Linked DNA regions of Homo sapiens: region 2 is linked to region 1. The links come from fine-mapping of genetic effects on gene expression. Tissue or cell type: visceral fat. Region 1 holds a variant in brackets; the other region holds the start of a gene. All regions are shown on one strand. Distances are between the middles of the regions.

Region 1 (8,111 bases):
CCTAAATATATATGCACCCGATACAGGAGCATGCAGATTCATAAAGGAAGTTCTTAGAGCCCTACAAAGAGACTTAGACTCCACACAATAATACTGGGAGACTTTCACCCCACTGTCAGTATTAGACAGATCAATGAGACAAAAAATTAACAAGGATATTCAGGACTTGAACTCAGCTCTGGACCAAGCAGACCTAATAGACATCTACAGAACTCTCCACCCCAAATCAACAGAATATACATTCTTCTCAGCACCACATCACACTTATTGTAAAACTGGCCATATAATTGAAAGTAAAACACTCCTCAGCAAATGCAAAAGAATAGAAATCATAACAAACAGTCTTTCAGATCACAGTCCAATCAAATTAGAACTCAGGATTAAGAAACTCACACAAAACCGTACAAGTACATGGAAATTAAACAACCTGTCCCTCAATGACTGCTGAGTAAATAACAAAATTAAAGCAGAAATAAATAAGTTCTTTGAAACCAATGAGAACAAAGACACAATATACCAGAATCTCTGAGACACAGCTAAAGTAGGGTTTAGAGGAAAATTTATAACACTAAATGTCCACAGGAGAAAGCAGGAAAGATTTAAAATGGAAACCCTAACATCACAATTAAAATAACTAGAGAAGCAAGAGCAAACAAATTCAAAAGCTAGCAGAAGACAAGAAATAACTGAGGTCAGAGCAGAACTGAAGGAGATAAGAGACACGAAAAACCCTTCAAAAAATCAATGAATCCAGAAGCTGGTTTTTTGAAAAGATCAACAAAATAGACCACTAGCCAGACTAATAAAGAAGAAAAGAGTGAAGAGTCAAATAGGCACAATAAAAAAATGATAAAGGGGACATCACCACTGATCCCACAGATATACAAACTACCATCGAGAATACTATAAACACCTCTACACAAATAAACTAGAAAATTTAGAAGAAATGTATAAATTCCTGGACACGTACACCCTCCCAAGACTAAACCAAGAAGTCGAATCCCTGAATAGACCAGTAACAAGTTCTGAAATTGAGGCAGTAAATAATAGCCTATCAACCAAAAAAAGCTCAGGACCAGACGGATTCACAGCCGAATTCTACCAGAGGTACAAAGAGGAGCTGGTATAATTCCTTCTGAAAATATTCCAAACAATAGAAAAAGAGGGACTCCTCCCTAACTCATTTTATGAGGCCAGCATCTTCCTGATACCAAAACCTGGCAAATAAACAACAAAAAAAGAAAATTTCAGGCCAATATCCCTGATGAACATCCATGCGAAAATACTCAATAAAATACTGGCAAACTGAATCCAGCAGCGCATCAAAAAGCTTATCTACCATGATCAAGTCGCCTTCAACCCTGGGATGCAAGGCTGGTTCAACATAGGCAAATCAATAAACGTAATCCATCACATAAACAGAACCAATGACAAAAAATACAGGATTATCTCAATAGATGCAGAAAAGGCCTTTGACAAAATATAACACCCCTTCATGCTAAAAACTCTCAATAAACTAAGTATTGATGGAATGTATCTCAAAATAAGAAGAGCTATTTATGACAAACCCACAGCCAATATCATACTGAATGGGCAAAAACTGGAAGCATTCCCTTTGAAAATGGCACAAGACAATGATGCCCTCTCTCACCACTCCTATTCAACATAGTATTGGAAGTTCTGGCCAGGGCAATCAGGCAAGAGAAAGAAATGAAGGGTATTTAAGTAGGAAAAGAGGAAGTCAAATTATCTCTGTTTGCAGATGACATGATTTTATATTTAGAAAACCCCATCATCTCAAACTAAAATCTCCTTAACCTGATAAGCAACTTCAGCAAAGTTTCAGGATACAAAATCAATGTGGAAAAATCACAAGCAATCCTACACACCAATAACAAACAGAAAGCCAAATCATGAGTGAACTCCCATTCGCAATTGCTACTAAGAGAATAAAATACCTAGTAATACAACTTACAAGGGATGTGAAGGACCTCTTCAAGGAGAACTACAAACCACTGCTCAAGGAAATAAGAGAGGACACAAACAAATGAAAAAACATTCCATGCTCATGGATAGGAAGAATCAATATCATGAAAATGGCCATACTGCCTGAAGTAATTGATAGATTCAATGTGATCTCCATCAAGCTACCATTGACTTTCTTCACAGAATTGGAAAAAACTACTTTAAACTTCATATGGAACCAAAAAAGAGCTGGCATAGCCAAGACAATCCTAAGCAAAAAGAACAAAACTGGAGGCATCACGCTACCTGACTTCAAACTATACTACAAGTTTACAGTAACCAAAACAGCATGGTACTGGTACCAAAACAGATATATAGACCAATGGAACAGAACAGAGGCCTCAGAAATAACATTACACATCTACAACCATCTGATCTTTGACAAACCTGACAAAAACAAGCAATGGGGAAAGGATTCCCTATTTAATAAATGGTGTTGGGGAAACTGGCTAGCCATATGCAGAAAACTGAAACTGGGCACTTTCCACACATCTTATACAAAAATTAACTCAAGATGGATTAAAACTTTAAATGTAAAACCCCAAACCACAAAAACCCTAGAAGAAAACCTAGGAAATGCCATTCAGGACATAGGCATGGGCAATGACTTCACGACTAAAACACCAAAAGCAATGGCAACGAAAGCCAAAATTGACAAATGAGATCTAATTAAACTAAAGAGCTTCTGCACAGCAAAAGAAACTATCATCAGAGTGAACAGGCAACCTACAGAATGGGAGAAAAAATTTTGCAATCTATCCATCTGACAAAGGGCTAATATCAAGAATCTACAAAGAACTTAAACAAATTTACGAGAAAAAAAACAAACAACCCCCATCAAAAAGTGGGCAAAGGATATGAAGAGAAACTTCTCAAAAGAAGACATTTATGTGGCCAACAAACATATGAAAAAAAGCTCATCATCACTGGTCATTAGAGAAATGCAAATCAAAACCATAATGAGGTACCATCTCACACTAGTTAGAATGGCGATCATTAAAAAGTCAGAAAACAACAGACGCTGGAAAGGATGTGGAGAAATAGGAATGCTTTTACACTGTTGGTGGGAGTGTAAATTAGTTCAATCATTGTGCAATACAGTGTGACAATTCCTCAAAGATCTAGAACCAGAAATACCATTTGACCTAGCAATCCTATTACTAGGTATATATCCAAAGGATTATAAATCATTCTACTATAAAGACATATGCACACGTATGTTTACTGCAGCACTATTCACAATAGCAAAGACTTGGAACTAACCCAAATGCCCATCAATGATAGACTGGATGAAGAAAGTGTTGCATATATACACCGTGGAATACTATGCAGCCATAAAATAGGATGAGTTCATGTCCTTTACAGGGACATGGATGAAGCTGGAAATCATCATTCTCAGCAAACTAACACAGGAACAGAAAACCAAACACTACATGTTCTCACTCATAAGTGGGAGTTGAATAATGAGAACACATGGACACAGGGAGGGGAACATCACACAACAGGGCCTGTCAGGTGGTAGGGGTCTAGGGGAGGGATAGCATTCAGAGACATACCTAATGTAGATGACGTGTTCATGGGTGCAGCAAACCACCATGGCATGTGTA[T/C]ACCTATGAAATAAACCTGCACATTCTGCACAAGTATCCCAGAACTTAAAGTATAATATAAATATATATGTGTATGTATATATCTCTGCTATATATATGTACATGTATATATACATATATATCCGCTATATATGTGTATGTATATACACATATATGTCCACTATATATGTATACATACAGATATATACATATAGGTACATATGTAATATATATGTGCACATGTATACATATATGTACATATATACATATATTACATATGTAATATATGTATATATACACATATATACGTATACATGTGTATATGTACATATGTACATATGTAATATATGTATATATACATATGCATATATTATACGTATATGTATAATATAATAATATATTAATATATTAATGAATGAATTAATTAATTCATTAATATAATAATATAATAAATTATACATATACGTATAATATATGTACTATATGTATATATACATATATGTATGGTAATATATGTATATGTACATATGCGTATATACGTGCATATATACATATATGTACATATGTGTATGTGTGTATATATACATATGGGTATATATGTGTGTATATGCATATATGTACCTATGTGTATATATGTGTGTATATGCATACATGTACTATGTGTATATATGTGTGTATATACATACATGTACATATGCGTATATCTGTATATACATATGTGTATATATGTGTATATATACATATACGTACATAAATGTATATATGTCTATATATACATATATGGCAGATATATAATATATATGGAAATATATATAATATATTATATATGGAAATATATATTGCATTATATATGGAAATATATATAATATATTATATATGGAAATATATATTGTATTATATATGGAAATATATATTATATTATATATAGAAATATATATTATATATGGAAATATATATTATATTATATGAGGAAATATATATTATATTATATGTGGAAATATATATTATATTATATATGGAAATATATATTATATTATATATGGAAATATATTATATATTATGTGTATGGAAATATATAATATATTATATAAAATATATATTATATGTAATATATATTATATATGGAAATATATATTATATATTATATATGTGGAAATATATATAACACATAATATATGGAAATATATATATAATAAATATATATGGAAATATATGATACATATTACATATATGGAAATATATGATATATATTATATATATGGAAATATATGATATATATTATATATGGAAATATATATTATAGATGGAAATATATATAATATATATTATATATATGGAAATATATATAATATATATATTGAAATATATATAATATATATATTGAAATATATATAATATATACATGGAAATATATATAATATATGGAAATATATATAATATATATGGAAATATATATAATATATATTGTATATGTGGAAATATATATAATATATATTGTATATATGGAAATATATATATGGGAATATATATAAAATATATTATATATATGGGAATATATATAAAATATATTATATATATGGAAATATATATAATATATATAACGGAGTTTCTTTTTTTTTCCTATAATATGTAGTGGAAAACAAGAAAAATTTAAGAATTAATTTTTAAAAAATTCAGTCTTAAGACTAAATTTTTTCGTCAGGTAGTGTGCACTCAGCTTCAAGTAACAATACACTGCTAAAAGTAGCTTTATAAACAGGAGAAGTGTGGAACCAGGAAGTATGGAGAAAAATATTTCTAATTTTATTAGAGCAGTTCAGCAATTTCATTAGGAGGTGGGACCCTCCTCCCACCCTCCTTGGTACATTGGCTCTGTACCTTCATACTTGCAAGATGGCTCTCCCCTCCAAGATGAGACATATAAATATGACAATATTTGGGCCCCCAAAATCTATCAGATTTTGTAACCTCCATCTATACTTATTGTACCAGAAGCATTTATTCCATAGTAAGTCTTTTGAACTTTTATTTATTTTTATTTTTATTAATTTATGTATTGAGACGGAGTCTTGCTTTGTCGCCAGGCTGGTGTGCAGTGGCACGATCTGGGCTCATTGCAACCTGCGTCTCACAAGATCCAGCGATTCTCCTCCCTCAGCCTCCCGAGTAGCTGGGACTACAGGCGCGTGAGATCATGCCCGGCTAATTTTTTTGTATTTTTAGTAGAGACAGGGTTTCACTGTTTTAGCCGGGATGGTCTCAGTCTCCTGACCTCGTGATCCGCCCACCTCGGCCTCCCAAAGTGCTGGGATTACAGGGTGAGCAACCGCGCCTGGCTATTTATTTTTGAGACAGAGTTTGGCTCTTGTTGCCCATGCTGGAGTGCAGTGGCGTGATCTCGGCTCACTGCAACCTCCACCTTCAAGCGATTCTCCTGCCTCAGCCTTCTGAGTAGCTGAGATTACAGGTGTGTGCCACCATGCCCAGGTATTTTTTTAAATATTTATTTATTTATTTATTTGTGGGCATGAGCCACCACGCCCGGCCTCAACTTTCATTTTAAATGGTGATACATATTCCATACCAAAAAAAAAAAAAAAAAAAAGAAAAAGAAAGAAAGGTCGGGCACAGTGGCTCATGCCAGTAATCCCAGCACTTTGGGAGTCCGAGGCGGGTGGATCACCTGAGGTCAGTAGTCCAAGACCAGCCGGACCAACATGGCGAAACCCCGTCTCTACTAAAAAATACAAAAATTAGCTGTGCATCGTGGCAGGTGCCTGTAATTCCAGCTACTCAGGAGGCTGAGGCATGAGAATCGCTTGAACCCGGGAGGCAGATGTTGCAGTAAGCCAGTATCGTGCCACTGCATTTCAGCCTGGTCTACAGAGTAAGACTCCATTTCAAAAAACCACAACAACAACAACAACAACAACAGGAAAAAAAAAAGAAAAGAAAGAAACAAAGAGAAAAACAAACCACACACCCTATAATTGGACAGGCCCAGTGGCTCATGCCTGTAATCCTAGCATTTTGGTGGTCAAGGCAGGAGGATCACTTGAGTCCGGCAGTTACCAGCTTGAGCAACATAGAGAGACCTGGTCTCTACTAAAAATAAAATTAGGCTAGCATGGTGACTCATGCCTGCAGTCCCAGCTATCTGGGAGGCTGAGGCACAGGAGAATAGTTTGAGCCCAGGAGTTTGAGGTTTCAATGAGCTATGATCACATCATTGCACTCTAGCCTGGGCAACAGGGTGAGACTCTGTCTTAAAAAACCAAAAACTGTAGTTGACTTAACATAATAAACAGCGTTCCTTTCATTTATGGAATACCTGAGTATTAAGAAATATATACTAGAGGTTTTACACAAACACCTCTAATCCTTAAAACAATCTTGCAAGGTAGCTATTATCATTCTGATTTTACAAATGAGAAAACTGAAACTCAGAGAGCTTAAAACTTATCTGATATTTCCGCTAGTTGCAGAACAGGGAATTTGAGCCCATTTCCAAACCAGCAGTCATAATGATATTTATTTAACACTGGGGGCGGGTGGGTTGGGTAGGGAGAAATCAAAGCCCAAAGGAATAGGCAAATTCATAACTAATAAACATAGAATTTGTTGGCCAGGCACGGTGGCTCACGCCTGCAATCCCAGCACTTTGAGAGGTCGAGGCGGGCGGATCACGAGGTCAGGAGATCGAGACCATCCTGGCTAACACGGTGAAACCCGTCTCTACTAAAAATACAAAAAATTAGCTGGGCGTGGTGGCGGACGCCTGTAGTCCCAGCTACTCGGGAGGCTGAGGCAGGAGAATGGAGTGAACCTGGGAGGCGGAACTTGCAGTGAGCCGAGATCGCGCCACTGCACTCCAGCCTGGGCGACAGAGCGAGACTCCGTCTCAAACAAAACAAAACAAAACAAAACAAAAACATAGAATTAGCTAAGCTTGTTATTGAAAAAAAAAAAACACAAAAAAAACCTGAATTCTTATAAGAAGTCAGCAAATGGCTACAAAGCTATGATGGATATTCAGATCTATTTATAACCTACAGTTCATCATTGCACTTTCAGTAGACGGTAAGCAATTATTCAGTTTGCATCAGTAGCTATGTTGAGCTTACTCTGACATCCTGTTTTCCACACCTCTTGATCAGGCTTACTGGCATTTTGTTCTTCATAAGTCTTTGTCAGCACTTCCTACAGTTGTCCAACACTATCTAGCACATACAATTAGTCACATTTGTCAACAGTCCTCAGTAAGGTTAGATTAAGTTCAATTTCTCATGGCACCCATATAAAAAGCTCCTGATTTGACTCTCCTATAGCACAATAAATTTCACTAGCCAATAGAAAATTCTGTGAAATATATGTAAATGCATATATATGTGTGTATATATATTTGATTGTGGTACTTCTTGTGGTAGGTTTGGTCTGTATCCTCAAATAGGTGACAATCAGACATTTTTTTTTTTGTTCTAAAGGCATCAAGAAGGCTAT
Region 2 (8,103 bases), 44 kb after region 1:
CCAAAGTGCTGGGATTACAGGCGTGAGCCACTGCACCTGGCCCTTGTATTTATTGTACGAATTGCTTGTTTATGGCTTGTGTTCTATTTTAAAATAGGGTTTTTTTTTGGTACTGATCCATAGGCATTTTTTTTAACATATTCTGGATATTCTCCCTTTAAAAAAAATACATTGCAATTATTTTCTGTCAGTTGCCCTATTTACGGTTTCCACTGTACAGATGTTCTACATGTTCAGGAGTTTGGGATGAACTTATCGCCAGTCACACCATCCCACCTCCCCTCACCTTCCAGCCTGTGGTAAAAGAGACTGAGCAATGAAGACCCCTGAAACTTTGACAAAACTGGTAGAATATGAGGATGTCATCATTTATGAAGCTGCAAATAAGCTTCCTGGTAGACTTGACTTCCTTTTCTGTACAATCACAATACTGGAAAAATCATCACAATGGATATTTACATATGCAAAAATGTAGCTGAGACTCTAGTCTGAAATAGAGATTTTGGAGAAGTATGACTCTGCTTAATGCAACTAAACTGCTTTTTGCTAATGTGATACATTTTCTACACTGTGGACAGTCATAGCTGTAAGTCAGGATTTATACTGCTTAGGCACTGTGGGTTTTTTTTTTTTTTTTTTTTTTTTTGAGATGGAATCTCGCTTGTAGCCCAGGCTGGAGTGCAGTGACAGGATCTCGGCTCACTGCAGCCTCTGCCTCCCAGGCTCAAGCAATTCTTCTTCCTCAGCCTCCTGAGTAGCTGGGATTACAGGCGTGCGCCACCACACCCAGCTAATTTTTGTATTTTTAGTAGAGCCGGGGTTTCATCGTGTTGGTTAGGCTGGTCTCTAACTCCTGACCTCATGATCCAACCACCTCGGCCTCCCAAAGTGCTGGGATTACAGGCGTGAGCCACCGCGCCCGACCTACTGTGGCTTATTATTTTTGAGATGCACATGTTCTTTAAATAATTGCTTATAGGAGATAAAACTCCAAGACAGCCAGAAGACTGCACTGGCAGGATTTTCTCCTTGAGTTGGAGGAAGGATTGTATGTAAAAACGATTAGCTTGGTCAAGCTCAGTCATGAGCTAGATGGTGTTTAAAATTGAACTCAATGTTCTCTGACCAATGTGTCAAATTAAAAAAAAAAAAAATTGAACTCGACCTTGAAAACTGTTTTTAAAAAGAAACCTTTTGAACATCATGTACTGTAAAAGAAAAAAAAATTTAAAGTTTTAAAAATTATTCTAAGAGGATGTTGTAAGAAAGTGGCCTCATGTCACTTTATAGGTATCTCCAGTCCTGGGGTTCACTTACTATGATCTGATCTGATTGTCTTGCTGAGAGCACACCCTTATGAGTAGGTCTCTCCTACAAGGAGTAGACATTCTTGCCATCAGTCATGGCAGAAAAGGCTGTACTTGGCACAGAACAGGAGAATTTAGAAGGCAGGCCCTACAATGGGGATGAGGAGGAAATACTTTGGTCTATTCTAGACTGCACATTTAGTGCTGAATGGCCTCCCATGGTAATGTGGGGAACCTGGCCTCTACCTGTCACTGGTGCGCAGAGGCGACAGTCTATGAAACAATAGCATTTATTTTAAAGAGACTGCACCACCATAATAAAAAAAACAAACCTAGTAAAACAGGGCCAGCCCTATATGTACACTGCCTGAAAATTATAATTTTAGGGGCCTTTGAAAGACCTTGCATGTCCCAAGAGTCCTCTCCTTCTTTGTGGCTTTTCCCCTCCCAGCTTATTAGAAGAAATCTTCTACCAAAAGGCCAAATTAAATATACATATATTGGGAGGGTATTTTCTCCAAAACAATGACCAAAAACACTAACCCAGAGAGGACTAAAAACTTTTAATTCCATCACCCTACTTAAGCCTTTGTCAGTTTCCACAGGAATATAAAATATTTATATAATAGCAATCATGTGCCCATACAATAATATATCTTGAATTTTTAAAAATTAATGTTACACTGATCAAAAGCCCCTCCCATCACAGAGAGTTACATAGCAGTGATATCTCAGAAAGAACAATGATTTTGGCCTCAGGTGCTTTCCTTTGAGTCACAGCTCCAATGTAGGCAGCACAGCCCTAGACCACCTGACTCTGTTCCTTCCTTTCTACCATGACTGGCTTGCAGGGTGAGTGAGAGGAACAGATACAATGCATGGTGGGTGGCTGACTCATGGTGGGCAATGACTGGTAGTTAATATTTTTAGCGTTATTTTTAAAGTCAACATTTTACTTCCTGAATTGATGGTTTTGGGGGCAAGCACTGTGCCAAGCCTTCTTTACAACAGAGACTGTTTTAATCCTAATCACCCTTCAAGACTAGCTGTATTATCTCACTTTACACCTGACAAAAAATGAAGCCCACTGTGGTAATGCCACTTGCCCAAAGTCACACAGCAGGTCAGCAGAAGAGGTAGCTTTTGAACTAGGTTGGGGTCAACAGTAGTCACTACTGGCCACTACCAAATATGAAATACAAACGTCACCTCAGAACAGCAGATAGCCTCTCTCCTTAGCACACTGCTTTGCAGATTCAAGAAGTCCAGAAGGCCAGAGTGGATGAGGTGAAATACAGTTTTAGTTTTTAAGATCATGAACAAGGGGTCAGTGAAGAACCCAGGAGAAATTAAAAGAGCAAAGTAAACCTCAACACCAATTAGTTCAGATAGACAAATTCCCTAAAACTCTTTCACTATCCTGATGTCTCAAGAGCCACGTTTAAAATTACAAAATCTGTGTGGGTTATGTCAAAGGCAATCTGTAGAAAGGGCAAAGAATATGAATTATCTGAACCCATTGAGTTTTTTGTTTGTTTGTTTGTTTGTTTGTTTGTTTTGAGACAGAGGCTCGCTGTGTCGCCCAAGCTGGAGTGCAGTGGCGCCATCTCAGCTCACTGGGTTCAAGCGATTCTTCTGCCCCAGCTTCCTGAGTAGCTGAGATTACAGGCGCGCACCACCATGCCCGGCTAATTTTTGTATTTTTAGGAGAGACGGGGCTTCACCACGTTGGTCAGGCTGATCTGGAACTCCGGACCTCGTGATCCGCCCGCCTCGGCCTTCGAAAGTGCTGGGATTACAGGTGTGAGCCACGGCGCCCGGCCATTTTTTTTTTAAAGTAAGGTTGGGAAAACAACAAATGATACCTCCTAGGGCTGTTATTACAATTAAGACAAATACCAGAGCACTTTGGCAGGTGGAGGCGAGCGGATCATTTGAGGTCAGGAGTTCGAAACCAGCCTGGCCAACATAATGAAACCTCATCTCTACTAAAAATACAAAAATTAGCTGGGAGTGGTAATCCCAGCCTGTAATCCCAGCTACTCGGGAGGCTGAGGCAGGAGAGTCGCTTGAGCCTGGGAGGCAGAGGTTGCAGTGAGCCAAGATCATGCCCCTGTACCCCAGCCTGGGTGACAAAGCAAGATTCTGTCTCAAAAAAAAAAAAAAAAAAAAGGACAAATACCAGAAAGCCCATCACAGATGAAGGACTTTGTTCCAGTTCGTGACACATTGCCAACTTTGAATTACATCCAAGTCCGTGGGTCTTCTCTCTGGGGTCAATTGATGGCACGTGATTACACTGCTCAGGGCCCAAAGGTTGGAGCTATGACTTGAATGTTTCTAGACAAGGAATTATTTGACAAACACACTTTAAAAAGTATTCAGAGCCATCCAAGTAAGAGGACATTAATAACGTAGGGTTTTGCCTATGGAGAGAAAAGAAAACGCAAACAGCACGTTCCACCTTCGTTCTCCCTAAAGTAATTTATCTCCTTCAAAAGATAAAAAGTACGAACACATTTGCCCTTGAAGGGCAGAGCCCCGGAATTCAGGAGCTCTCTGAACACTCCTCCCCTTCTGATAGGGACCAAACCTTCTGCTGAGCCTTGTGTCACAGTCAGTCCGCGGCGCCACAAGCCTCAGTGTTTACTTCTGCCGCCTGCCAGCCGGGCGGGGAAGGGGAGTACCCGGCCACCCCTCACTTTAGCTCCTGCAGCTTTCCAAACAAACCAGGGCGGGATGGGAGTGTCTTCTTGGCTGTGGAAATCGATCCTCCTACCTTGTCCTGAAGCCACCCGCCGCCTTTCCTCGTCCCTCCCTTCGCGGTGATTTTCCGGTCCCGGCGCCCGGCGAGGGCGCGCGGCTGGTGTCCGCCCCGCCCGAAAGGTAGGGGTTCGGCTGTGCTCCCGCCTGGTCCCCAACGCCTCACCCTCCGGGAGACCCGCAGCCTCCCACCACTTTGCACCTTCCTCCTCGAATTTGGGGGCGGCCACCGTGCAACTGGCGCCAGCCGCGGAGCAGGAGGAGCTTCCCGCGACTCCGGAGGCGCTCGGCGCAGTCGCCCGGGATTGGGGCTGGCGGGAGCCTGAGACTCCGGGCAGGGCTGCTCCCTCCTCTGCTCCCCCGCCAGATCCGCGGGGAAGGAATCGTGCCCGCGCCGCCCCTGGCCCGCGCCACCTTCCTTTGGTTTCTGCCGGCCTCGGGCTTCTGCGGCCCGATGTGGCAGGCGCCGCGAGAGAGGCAGCAGCCGGCTGGAGCAGCGGCCCCTCAGGTCTCGGAGCCCGGTGCGCCTCTGCGGTCGTCGCTCCTGGGCCTCGGCGGGTCACTCTTGCCGGCCGGCTTCGCTGCGGGTTTGCACTGCCCGGGTGAGGGAAATTGGGGGTGCGGGAAGACCGGTCTGGGCCGGGGTCCGGGCGGCCTGGGGTCTGTGCTGCCCCGACCCTCCGGCTTTGCAGCCTCTGAGGCTCAGGGTTGGGGGTGGGGACACGGAGCGCTGTTTGCCCCTCCACATATCCTGCCAGCACCAAGGAGGTGGCGTGCGGAGGCGTAAAGGGACCATGGGCGCTGGGACCCGCGAGCCAGCCGGCGTGCGCCGCAGCCACCGCCGAGAGGGCACCCGGGGATCCTGGAGCCCCAGTGAAGGGCGGGAGGGACGCGCAGCCTCGCGGGTAAGCCCAGGAGCCGTGGGGGCCGAGAGAATCTGCTCTGGGACCCTCTTTTGTCGAATCGCCGGCGAGGTTGTGCAATTGGGAAGCCAAGAGGAGTGTCCAGCTCCTCGTTCACTATTGTTTTCTTGTAAAAGGGTCTGTACGCGAGGAGGGTTGAGGGGTCTGGAAGGTTCTGGTCTCTTACCGTATAAAGTTTTTCGAGAAACCCTTTTTCCCTCCACAATGGAACTAGACCTAACAAAACAAGCTCCGAGGCAGTTTAGGAGAAAGGAGGACGGTGAGTAAATTGCAGTGTTTGGGCTGCTGTTAATTTTCAAGATAAGGGAGAAGCAACTTGTCATTTTGAGGCCGCCGGCTCCGGAGATCCCGGCAATCTCAAGCCTCTTTCTTGTGTGCTGTTATTTTGGCTTAAAAGAAAACCTATAAAAAGCGACGCCCAGAAACCAAAAACAAACCCAAAGCACCTTCTTTTAGGATTTTTCAGTAGCGAGGGTTGGCGGGGACAGTGGGGAGGAGCAGGAGGGGGAGAAGAGGTTGCTGTTGAAAGGTAATGTTTAAAAACAGTGTGTGGGGGTAGGGATGAAAATAACGTGGTGACTGCTAGTGTATCAGAAATCACACCGAGTCTAAAGTCGTAAGTCCCATTTGCCTTACGAGGACCAGCTGGGTGCTGTGAGTAGGTGGATAGTTAAGGAAACTGTAGATCTGCTGAAAGCTCCTCGTGGTCTGTGGTCTCGTGTCCACGCTGACCTTTGAACCTCGTAACTCTTCGGGTCTCCAGCGGCCACCTCTTTTAGGCTAGCCCGAATGTTTGACTTTCCGGTCCTCAATCTTCCTCACCTAGCTGCAGACCATAAAACTGTCTTTTTATTTACAGGGAGATGTTAAATATTTGGGAACATCTGCTCAGGCTGCCAGGTTATTTTCCGTTTGAAAGCATGCCGATTTGACATTTGCAAGTTGGTTTATGTTGCTTCCTTTTTGTTTCACTAAGAACGCTTTTCATACCAAGATCTGCGAAAAACGATGCCCTTAGACTGTTATTTAGTTTATTGTCTCTGAGTAAGGCCAAATTCCACAGAGGGTCTTTGGATAATGGCAACTTTGCTTATAAGAAGATAATTTTTCTAGAAAGTGTTGCATTGGTCTGGTTTCCTAAGCTGTTCTTGTGGTCATGTAGACTGGGAGGGGAGATCTTCATTCCTTGTGATGTCGCTTTCCTTGAATTGTATTTTTACTATAGTTCCACAATGTCTCAGTCCCAGATTGCACCATATGTTGTTTACATGGTGCAGTAAAATGGGACTGCAATTTTGACTACATTTCAGTAGATTTGTTGGAGATAGTTTGTTCTTATGCCCTATATCAATAATAATAATAAAAAACCTTTGAGGCTCAAGAATAGACAGTATTGACAGAATAATACCATTAAGAGACATACCATTTAAAAACATTAGTCTGTCTCCTGTGAAATTGTAAATCGTAGGTGTTCTCATTCAGTGGCAGACGACTGGATTTCACAGCAGTTTTCTTCTGTTGGAGACATTTCTGTGTTCCACATCATGTGGAACCTTATGGGAGAAGACGTGAGTAATGCCATGTTTCCCGCATTTCCCTGATAAGCATCATCTGCTAACCATGCAGACTGCCAGATGGCTTCCATGGAAATTGTGCTTCCATCCAGGAGTGGTGACCAGAGATCTGTTTAGTATGCATTTTAGGTGATGCTTATTGAGAAGGTGAAGGAAGCATGGAACTCCTATTTGGCACCCACTCTGATTTTTGGTGTGTTCTCATATGCTATTTTATTTAATCTTCCTGACAAAACTCCTGCAAGAAAGGAATTTTTAGCCCCATTTTATAGCTTAAAAAACCAAGATTGCCTTAGGTTGAGTTGCAGTGGCTCACATAAAGGTTTGACTCTACCTCTGCCTACACCATCCCAGGAATCCTCTGCAGTATACATTCTGCACAAATTCTTCCATTTCCTGTGCATATCTTTCTCCTTTGCCTGGCATATCCTCCATTTATATATACCTTGGTCTGAATATGCCTTTCTAGTTATCCCCAGGCTGGGCTTTTTGAATAGGTGGTCTGCGTACTTTGCCTTCCTTGTGACAGCTTTAGACTTTCACCAGCCAGGAACCTTCTATCTTCTGCACATCTCTGATGTGTCACTTAGGTGATCAGGGTCTGGCGAAATCTAGGAGTTTATGCTGTCTTCAATGGGCATATTCCAAAAGTTCTTTCCTTTCTGAATACATTTTCACTGAAGCTCCTACTCAAGCTATATGTTACCTGGAAGAGGTTTTCCCAGGGTTACATCCCCACCCTCACAGTTGAAATGAAACATTCTCTCCTGTCTGTCCCAACTGTGATGGATAATAGCACACATCACACATCACAGTTTCCAATTTAACCCTTAGGGGTTAAAATGGATTTTGATTTGGAGTGAGCTTGATGCATGGAATAGAATGTATACATTGGATATTATAGTGTTTTGGTAGGAAATTTTATTTACAATTCCATATCAGGATGTCAGAAACACAATTCCCTCACCATTGTGGGATAGCTGGAGTTCTTTCCCCTGATGGTGACACCTCAGCACTGAATCAGCTGCAGTGTCTCAGACTTGGTCAGGAACTTGACTGTCGTATAATCAGGCTAAGAAGTGCTGAGATTCTGGCAGTGAGGTTATGAAAGTAAAAGATAACAGGATCAGTAAGACCTGGTTTTCTTCCTTGTGCCCATGTTTGTTTTTCTTGGAGAGCTTTTGGTCATCTAGGAGGATTGTCCAGTTTACCTTTTTACTGCCACAAACTTTTGTATCTGACCAGGGGCCTTCCTCTTCCTGCACCATTGAGATAGAGGGAAAGGAAAGCACCTAGCCCTTAGGAGATTTTCTTAAAAACATTGGAAAGCTGAGTGAAAAGTTATCTTCTCCCCCATTCTCTCTTTCCCCTTCTTATATGCTTAGCCTAAGACAAAGTATACAGATAGCATCATTGCATACTTTGCAATGTATTTAGTGCTAGGCTTTGAAAGATGGTTTAAACATTGATTTACTTTTTATTTGGTTGGGAATGGAAAGATCTTTAGGACATGATGAGAACAAGGCCCCCAGAAGA

Evidence for each region. PIP is the estimated chance that this variant, and not a neighbour inherited with it, causes the effect.
Region 2: ST3GAL6-AS1 starts here. The variant in region 1 is fine-mapped to the expression of ST3GAL6-AS1 in visceral fat (GTEx, PIP 0.90).

The regions. Positions count from the first base shown.
Region 1 is chr3:98,684,318-98,692,428 of GRCh38, forward strand. No RefSeq gene overlaps it. Among named protein-coding and RNA genes, the nearest start is that of ST3GAL6-AS1, 44 kb to the right of the region's middle. The variant T/C (reference allele first, on the strand shown) is at 3,633.
Region 2 is chr3:98,728,340-98,736,442 of GRCh38, forward strand. It overlaps ST3GAL6-AS1 (ST3GAL6 antisense RNA 1), which reads right to left and starts at 4,312. Exons shown (of 5, transcript NR_046683.1): 1 at 4,087-4,312. It also overlaps a transcript of ST3GAL6 not described here. RefSeq lists enhancers at 3,778-4,526, 4,527-5,274.